Linked DNA regions of Homo sapiens: region 2 is linked to region 1. Evidence: fine-mapped QTL for protein levels in blood plasma. A gene starts in region 1. The other region holds a variant in brackets. All regions are shown on one strand. Distances are between the middles of the regions.

Region 1 (4,321 bases):
TGCAAACCACAGTGTTAGTTGAGATTTTTTTGTTACACCCCCCTCCCTACCCTCCACCCCACCAAGAACCAAGTTACACCTGTTGGAACCCAAACTTGCTGGCCTGATCCAGAGGCAGTAAGGTACTTGGCACAAATGAATTCAATGAGACCTACATCTGGTTAGTTGAACAACTGTCTTTAAACAGTTTTCTAAACACCCCTGTGTAGACAGACAGATTAACAAACACAGACCCCCAACACACACACACCAGCCATCTTATCTCCTTCTAGACCACTGGCCCCCACTGCCATCTTCCTGTTCAAGTTCAGCAAAGGAAGCCGAGACACAGGCCTAGGGTCACCACGAACTCCATGGGCATCCTGCAGCCAGAAGCCATGCCGCCAGAGGCAGCTGCTTCTCCCCTTCAAGCCTCAGTTTTCTCATCTGTAAAAGGGGCACTGTCCACCCTCCAAGGTTCTCGGATGATTGATTCCCCAGCTCCTCTGAATGCCCCACTCTGGGCCCAGCCTAGCAACCCAGCCCTTCCGCTCTCTGAGGTTTAACTCCCCTGGCTGCTGGCCAAGCCTGCTGAGGGAGGCATCAACCACCCAGGGCACGGCCTCGGAAGAGACTCTGGGGCTGTCTGAGGGCCTGGGAGCCACCTTCTGAGGCCCCGGCCCACTGAGGGGCCTGGCTCTGGGGGCCTCAAAGTCAGAGATGGAAAAAAAAGGAAAACAGAAGAAAGAGGAAAGAGGAAGAGAATTCCAGGCAACAGAAGCCCAGATATCGACAATATGGGGTGTGTGTGTGTGTGTGTGTGTGTGTGTGTGTGTGTGTGAATGTGTGTACAGCAGGGCACAACTGGCCCCCACCATTTCCTTTTAGTGTCCTGAAAGTATCTCAAATACAAACTAATAAGAGTATTCTAATTTTTTTTTTTTTGAGACAGGGTCTCACTCTGCCACCCGGGTTGGAGTGCAGTGGCACAATCTCGGCTTACTGCGACCTCCCCCTCCCAGGTTCAAGTGATCCTCCCACCTCAGCCTCCCAAGTAGCTGAGACCACAGGCATACACCACTACACCTAGCTAAGTTTTTGTATTTTTGGTAGAGACGAGGTTTCACCATGTTGCCCAGGTTGGTCTAGAACTCCTGAGCTCAGGCCAACCACCTGCCTCGGCCTCCCAAAGGGCTGGGATTACAGGTGTAAGCCACTGCACCCAGCCAAATATTCTAATTATTATTATTATTATTGTTTTCCCTTTTGCTAACAATAGTATCTTAATTCTAATATTTTAATAGTTTGCCACAGACAAGTGTCATTTCCTCAGTCTTATAAAAAGTGGGAAGAATGCATCTTTCTCTGAAAAGAACTTTTTTATGCGTCCATAACATGCAGCTTCAAGAGAAATCCTGCACTCCCCCTACTTTCTGGAGTCTTCCAGACCTAATCTCAGCTCTGCCCCTAAACAAATCCCTTCACCTCTCCCGACCTCAGTTTCCCATCCAGGAAAGGAGAGGATAAGATCATTTCTAGGGAAACACTCATGGTTTCTCTGATTTTCAAAATCAGAATGCCGCCAAGCCAGACGCTGCAGGCAAACTGGCCAGGGAGGGAAGTAAGTTAATGGGAGGCTGGGGCTGGTGGGTCACACCTGTAATTTCAGCACTTTGGGAGGCCAACGCAAGAGGCTTGAGGCCAGGAGTTTGAGACCAGCCTCGGCATCAAAGTGAGACCCCATCTCTAGGAAAGGTAAAAATATTAGCTGCATGCGGCGATGTGCGCCTGTAGTCCCAGCTACTCAGGAGGCTGAGGTGGGAGGATCACTTGTGCCCAGGAGTTTAAGGCTGCAGTGAGCCATGATTGTGCCACTGCACTCCAGCCTGGGTGACAGAGTAAGACCCTGTCTCAAAAAAAGAAGGAAAAAAAAAGTTGGCAGGAGCAGGATTCAGAAGAGTCACAGAATAAGGCCACAGACTCCAGGAAGACTTTAGTCTTGAGTCGGAGGAGCCTCAGTTTGCCCTCCCCAGGTGCTGCAGCTCAAGAAGGGCCTGGCGGTCCTACCCGGGCCTGCCAGCAGCTATAAGGCAGGCCCTTGGCCCATGGGGACCTCCAGCCACTCCCTGTGGTTTTGCAAGCCAGCACTTACCACCGTGCTCAGCAGAGCATGGGACAGCTGCCTCGTGGGCCCAGAAGAAGTGGCTTCTCTGCTTTAGTGACAAGGTCCCAGCCCACGCTGCCAGGCACTGCTGTGGCACCCCCTGCGGCAGTCCCGGATCCGAGCAACCCCCAATGGCTGTGTGTGGAAGGAGGAAGCGAGAATGTGGTTACTTAGGCAGGGCCATGTGACAGCCCACACCCCATTGTTTGTGACAGCTTTGGTGACAACATTGATAAAGACAGGGTGGTAGTGGGGCACCTCCTAGGTCTGACACTGTTCTTGGGTTCCCATAACTGTGAAAACACTGAGAACCAAGTAGAAGCTTTCTGGGGAGAAGTTCTTCGGTTTTGGGTGGGGCCCAAACTGAGAAAGGCCACAGCATTACTTCAGCAGCAATGGACAGTCGGGGCCAGAGGGAGCCCCCTGAAGGACAGGAGTGACCAGAGAAAAAGGAGAATGGTCTCGCTTCTTGCCCAAGATTGGTGGGGCGTGGGGAGGGGTGGGAGGTGGTCAGGGAGCAAAAAACACAAAATATGAACCTTCAAAGGGTTTGCAAATATGGTGTATTTCTTCTCGCAGGACTCAAAACACTCTCTGTAGATGCACAGCACAGGCCCTTTCAGCTGCAACCAAGAGCCTCTCTAGGGAGCTGGACTACAGATACCACAAGGGCAAGTCCTGCTTATCTTATTTCTTCATCCTAAATTTGTTCATTTGACCAACTCTGGCACTCCAGACTGCATGCCCTGAGGTCTAAAGGCCAGCAATTCTGGGCTGTGGCCCTCTGGTAGCCCTCCATCCAATGGGGAGGCCAGCGAGTAAACAATTCGGTGGAACATCATGCCACAATGACACAGCGCAGTGAGTGCCATCCTGCGGTGAGCAAGGGAGGGGCCTCTCCTTCCATCCTGGGTGGGGGAGGGAGGTTAACAGGAGGAGCTTCCAAGAAGTGGCACTTGAGATGACAAGCCAGGTGGGCATCCCAGGCAGAGAGCACAGCAGAGGCAAAGGCTGGGAGGCCTAAGAATACCCAGACACTTCCAGAAGGGAGGGAATAGGGGGGTCTCCCAGGATCTGCCCTGCGGCTTTGCACCAGGCAAGGGCTCAGGACATGCACAGAAAGATACTCATATCTTGCCTTGCACAAAGTTGTTTTTTTTTTTTTTTTTTGAGATGGAGTTTCACTCTTTTTGCCCAGGCTGGAGTGCAATGGCACAATCTCGGCTCACCGCAACCTCCGCCTCCCGGGTTCAAGCTATTCTTCTGCCTCAGCCTCCCGAGTATCTGGGATTACAGGCATGTGCCACCACCCCGGCTAATTTTGTATTTATAGTAGAGATGGGGTTTCTCCACGTTTGTCAGGCTGGTTGGTCTTGAACTCTCGACCTCAGGTGATCCACCTGCCTCGGCCTCCCAAAGTGCTGGGATTACAGGCGTGAGCCACCGTGCCCAGCCGCACACAGGTTGTTTTAAAATGAAAACCAGAGACCCAGCAGGTGTTCGCCATGACACAGTCTCAGCCACCTTAAGAAGCTGCAGCTGGAAACAGCCAAAAGCTCACCCTGCCGGCACGGACAGGGAAACTGAAGCCACAAGAGGGGAAGTGAGACCCCTAGAACCCAGGCCCCTCACCCTTCCCCAGCAGGTTTGGAAATAGCCATCCTTCAGGGACAGGGGACTGAGAAACTCTAAACACACCCAAGACTGCCTGCAGGTCACTCTCTGATTAGCGGAGGTGAGTGGTTGCAAGCTGTCTGTCACATCCAGCCTGCCACGTGGTTTTGTGCAGCTTGTGAGCTAAGAATGGTGGTTACATTTTTAAGTGGTTGGAAAATGTTTTGTGATGCATAAAAACTGTGCGAAATTCGAGATTCCGTTTTCATAAAGTTTTCTTGGGACACAGCCACACTAATTGGTGTAAACATATTGTCTCTGGCTGCTTTCACGTTGCAGCGGCAGAGTTGAATAGTTTCATCACCTGCAAAGCCTCACAACACAAACGCTTAACGTTTCCTGAGCCTGTGGTCAATGCCAGACCCTGTGGTAGGTGCTTTGCATACATCAGCTCATATAATCCTCGAAGCTGCCTTTAGAAATGAGGAAACTGAAGCTGAGAGGGAGAATGTGCCTTGCTCAAGGGCACACAGAGTAATGGCAGAGCCAGGACTCAAGTCCAGG
Region 2 (4,377 bases), 14 kb before region 1:
CTACCCTCCTTCCTTCCCTGCTGGCAGAGCTGAAGTCAGCACAGTGTGGTTTCCTAACCGTGCAACCGGCTGGAGCAAGTGGTTCAGCTTTCTGAACCTCGGTTTCCCTGGCAAGAAAATGGAACAATCATTGCACCCACATTATGAGGTTGAGTCCTAAATGAGATAATGCAGACAAACTGTTTGACAAGGCACTAGGTATGCAGTAAGTGCTCAGTAAAGGCCAGCTGCTTGCCCCCGGCCATCCCTCTTAGTCCTAGGCCCCAGCTCTGCTGTGTTGTGTTCTCTGCAATGAGAGGGCTGCGCTGTACTCGGTTACCCTCCCAAGGAACAGCGCCTTCCCTCAGCAGCCAGGAGCCACAGAGGGTGACTAATGGGGGACTTCCAGGCCCCAGGGCAGGTCAGCAGGGCTGAGGTTTTGGGGCGTGGGATTCCCCCAGAACCCCGCTGTGATCTCAAGGACAGCGTGACACAGTGGTAAGATCCTGGCTTTCAGGTCTGGGTTCCAATCTCAGATCCTCTTCATGACCTGGGGCAGGTGACTTCACCTAGCTCTCATCCTCAGTTTCATCTTCTGTAAAATGGGGAGAATACTAGAACCGTCTGTGAGAGCTGTTTGAGGGGATTCACGGGGATATTGCAGCTGTGTGTGTGTTCAGGATGTGTTTGCTGAATGGATGAGTGGGGTGATTCAGGCTGGTGGTCCTCAAGGGCATGGGAGGCCCAGGCAGGAGGGGAGGGCACAGGGGTGTGCAGGAGCCAGACTATATCTGCCCGTGAGAGCTAATCAACAAAATTTTCAGAATTTTGTGTCAGTTGTTTAATAAATTAAATTCTATTATATTAAAAGCCAAGGTCATCAGTACTCAAAACTCACCAATTCCTAATAATTGTACTACATTATCCGATGATCGATGCCCTTGTTACTAACACCTATTGTATCATCAACTATATAATGGTTGGTAGCTCAAAATCGGCTGTGGGAGTATTTACATGGAAGACATTGGCAAATGCTACAAATCAGGACTTTTTCCCATTGGAAGCCAGTTGTTAAACACTTAACAGCACGCCACTGGCTTTGGGGCTCCTTCCTGGCTAAATGATCTCCAAGTCTGGCCCAAGGGAAACGCAGGCTTCCACCTGCTCTAAGAGCTGGCGGCGGGCGCCCCCTGGTGGCCGCTTCAAGCACCCGGCTTCGCCCACCCTGAATGAAATCCCACACCTTGGAGAGAGAGAAAACTGTAAAGGGAAGGTGGCCCTCTTCCAACGCAAATGGAAATCTGTGGTTACACAGCATCCTCAGGAGCTGTCAGGAAATAGGGGAAAGCTCCCAGGAAGACGAGGTGACAAGATCCCTGGGGAACAACTCAGAGGTCCTTCAGCCTGAGTCCACAGCCCCCTGCTGTGGAGCCTTCAGCTCCCCTTCTCTGATTTTTCTGATCCCTCCCAAAGGGGAGGTAGACTCAGTCTCTCCTGACCCATCAGCCTGCCGACCCCGGGTGTTAACTGACCCAGCCCATGGCAGACACTCCCACCTTCTTCCATCAGCACCCCCAGGACACTTTGAACACACCTGCCTGTGTGTATCAGATTTGATCCTTCCAGAAGTTCAGGGGAGGAGACAGACACTGCATTTCCAATATGTGTGGGCCCTCTCCCCACTCCTCCCCGATGCTGTCCCATGGCCTTTCCCCCTGACGGCTCTTTCCTACCTTTCCCTTGTCTCTTTCCTCCAACCCCTCTCTCCCAAGCCACAGCCAACCCCTGCCAGACTCAACCTTCTCTGTGAACTCCCCTTTTCCGGGATAAACCATTGGGGGCAAGGAAAGAAGTCCTTCACTTCCAAAGAGGCCATTGAAGGTATTTTTTTTCTTTTTCCTTTTCTTTTCTTTTCTTTTTTTTTTTTTTTTTTTTTGAGACAGCTTTTCACTGCTGTTGCCAAGGCTGGAGTGCAATGGCATGACCTTGGCTCACTGCAACTTCTACCTCCCAGGCTCAAGTGATTCTCCCACTTCAGCCTCCTGAGTAGCTGGGACTACAGGCGCACATCACTGCACCTGGCTAATTTTTGTATTTTTTGTAGAGACGGGGTTTCACCATGTTGCCCAGGCTGATCTCAAATTCCTGAGCTCAAGCCGTCCTCCTGCCTCGGTCTCCCAAAGTGCTGGGATTACAGGCGTGAACCACCACACCCAGCCGGAGGTATTTTTCAAGAAGAAAAATAAAGACTATCCCCTGAGATGACTTTTATTCCTCTCCTAGAAGGTAGAACAGAGTCTGTTTAAGCGGCAGCTTCTTTCTCTCTCTATGGAAATGACTGGAAGGTATTTGGGAGCAGAAGAGCAAGAACTCTCCAAATCCTGGTTTTCTAATCTGACTGAAACTGCCTTTGCAAAAATTATAACTGAGGAAATGATGACAGTGGAAGAGACCAGACCGAACAGACTCCATCTTGCTTCTAGCCTTTAAGCTGTCCTTGTTCATTCCTTCCCCAAAGTTAGGCTGAACTAACTTTGGGAAATAATTCAGTTCGTGTTTTGACTCTGAAACAAAATTAATAATATCCCTTCCCCCCGAAAAGACCCCCTTCTTGCCTGGGGACCGATCTGCCTTTGCAGGACTAACAAATTAGCTACAAGATTCGAAATTATGGTTTAGGGGTCATGCAGCCTCTGGCTCCAAGAGTCTAAGCCTCCCCAAATTGCTCCTGTGGATAACATCAGTATTGTAAAACCTCAGAGCACTACGTGAGATATTTTGCAGACCCCGCACTGGATGGATCAGTTGACACCACCTAGGCTGGTATTCTGGCTCAACCAGTTCTGCCATCGCAGCCGGGAACAGAAGACATGAAGAAAACCTCACTGCAACCCCCTATGACTGTATCTCCAACCTGACCAATCAGCACTCCCAACTTCCCAAGTCCTTACCCGCCAAATTGTCGTTAAAAACTCTGATCCCCGTCTCCTGTACAGCCTGCTCTGCATGAATTACTCTGTCTCCCTTGCAATTCCCCTGTCTTGATAAATCGGCTCTGTCTAGGCAGCAGGCAAGGTG[G/A]ATCCACTGGGCGGTGACCTGACCCCCACAAGGTAGTGTGAGTTTTGAATGGGATAATGCAAGTGTTGCTTAAATAGCAGGGCCAACCTGGTTTACTGGGGCTGAGTTTCACGGAATATGGGACTTTCAGTGCTAAAATCAAGAAAGTTCCGGGCAAACTGGGACGACTGGTCACCCTATGCTTAAAATCAGGCGTCAGCAAACTGACGGAGCTGAAATGAGCCTGCCGCCCGTTTGTAAATAAAGTTTTATTAGAACACAACCATGCGCATTCATTTATGGACATATTGTCAGTGGCTGCTTTTGTACTACAAGGACAGAGTTGAGTTGTTGCAACAGAGGCTATGGTGTTGCAACAGTTAAGGCCTACAGTATTCACTGTTTGGTCCTTTAAGAAAAAGTTTGGCAGCTTGAACTTTTCCACCATTTGACAGCAAATCAGTGCTTCTGTGAGTTGTACAAAAGGTTGCAGGCTGCATCTAGGATCACCAATAAGCTACTGGCTGTTAATGAGAGACAGGGCCTGAGTGAAAAGGAGAGGTCAGGGTGAGCTTCTGGAGAGTGGGAAAGATTCTGTGCTTGGCCAAGCTTTAATCAGTCAGGCCCCTGAGTCCTCTCCTAGGCCCATCTGTGCACTTCCTTTTAAAATCCAGTTCTGGGCCGGGCGTGGTGGCTCACACCTGTAATCCCAGCACTTTGGGAGGCCAAGGCGGGAGAATCACCTGAGGTCGGGAGTTCAAGACCAGCCTGACCAACATAGAGAAACACCATCTCTACTAAAAATACAAAATTAGCTGGGCGTGGTGGCGCATGCCTGTAATCCCAGCTACTCAGGAGGCTGAGGCAGGAGAATCACTTGAACTCAGGAGGCGGAGGTTGCAGTGAGCCAGATCGCGCCATTGCACTCCAGCCTGGGCAACAAGAGCAAAACTCCATCTCAAAATAAATAAATAAATAAAATCCAGTTCTAACAAGAACTCTGCTAAGTCAGCTTAGCAACAACCCTCCCCCCACCACTCCATATCTGATCACCTCCCATATCTGATCACCTCCTATATCTGATCACGTTCCTCATCTGCCACCATCCCCCCGGTGATGTCTGAGCACCCTGGCCTGCCTCCAGTATGAATCCTGTTAGGTCAGTGTAGAAAATGACCGAGAACCCATCCCCAGCAGTCAGTTTAGCCAGAATTCCCCTTCCCCTGATGTTTCCTCTTGGTAATTTTCCAGCTGCAGATATCCAACCCTGTTCCCTGGCTATCAGCTCCCACTTGCCCCTGCTGTACTCATAGTTGAGCCCAAATGCCCCCACTGCAAAAT

What was found. PIP is the chance, under the fine-mapping model, that this variant and not a neighbour inherited with it causes the effect. Protein levels are from the aptamer-based SomaScan assay of Sun 2018.
Region 2: its variant is fine-mapped to the plasma level of the SELPLG protein (Sun 2018, PIP 0.95).

The regions. Positions count from the first base shown.
Region 1 is chr12:108,631,609-108,635,929 of GRCh38, forward strand. SELPLG (selectin P ligand) reads right to left here and starts at 2,286. Exons shown (of 2, transcript NM_003006.4): 1 at 2,132-2,286. It overlaps MIR4496 (microRNA 4496), which reads left to right and starts at 4,202; the gene lies at 4,202-4,262. It overlaps LOC105369968 (a long non-coding RNA gene), which reads left to right. Exons shown (of 3, transcript XR_007063449.1): 2 at 2,723-4,321. RefSeq lists enhancers at 200-349, 1,758-1,807 and a silencer at 3,048-3,097.
Region 2 is chr12:108,617,123-108,621,499 of GRCh38, forward strand. No RefSeq gene overlaps it. Among named protein-coding and RNA genes, the nearest start is that of SELPLG, 15 kb to the right of the region's middle. RefSeq lists enhancers at 170-629, 1,210-1,259. The variant G/A (reference allele first, on the strand shown) is at 3,058.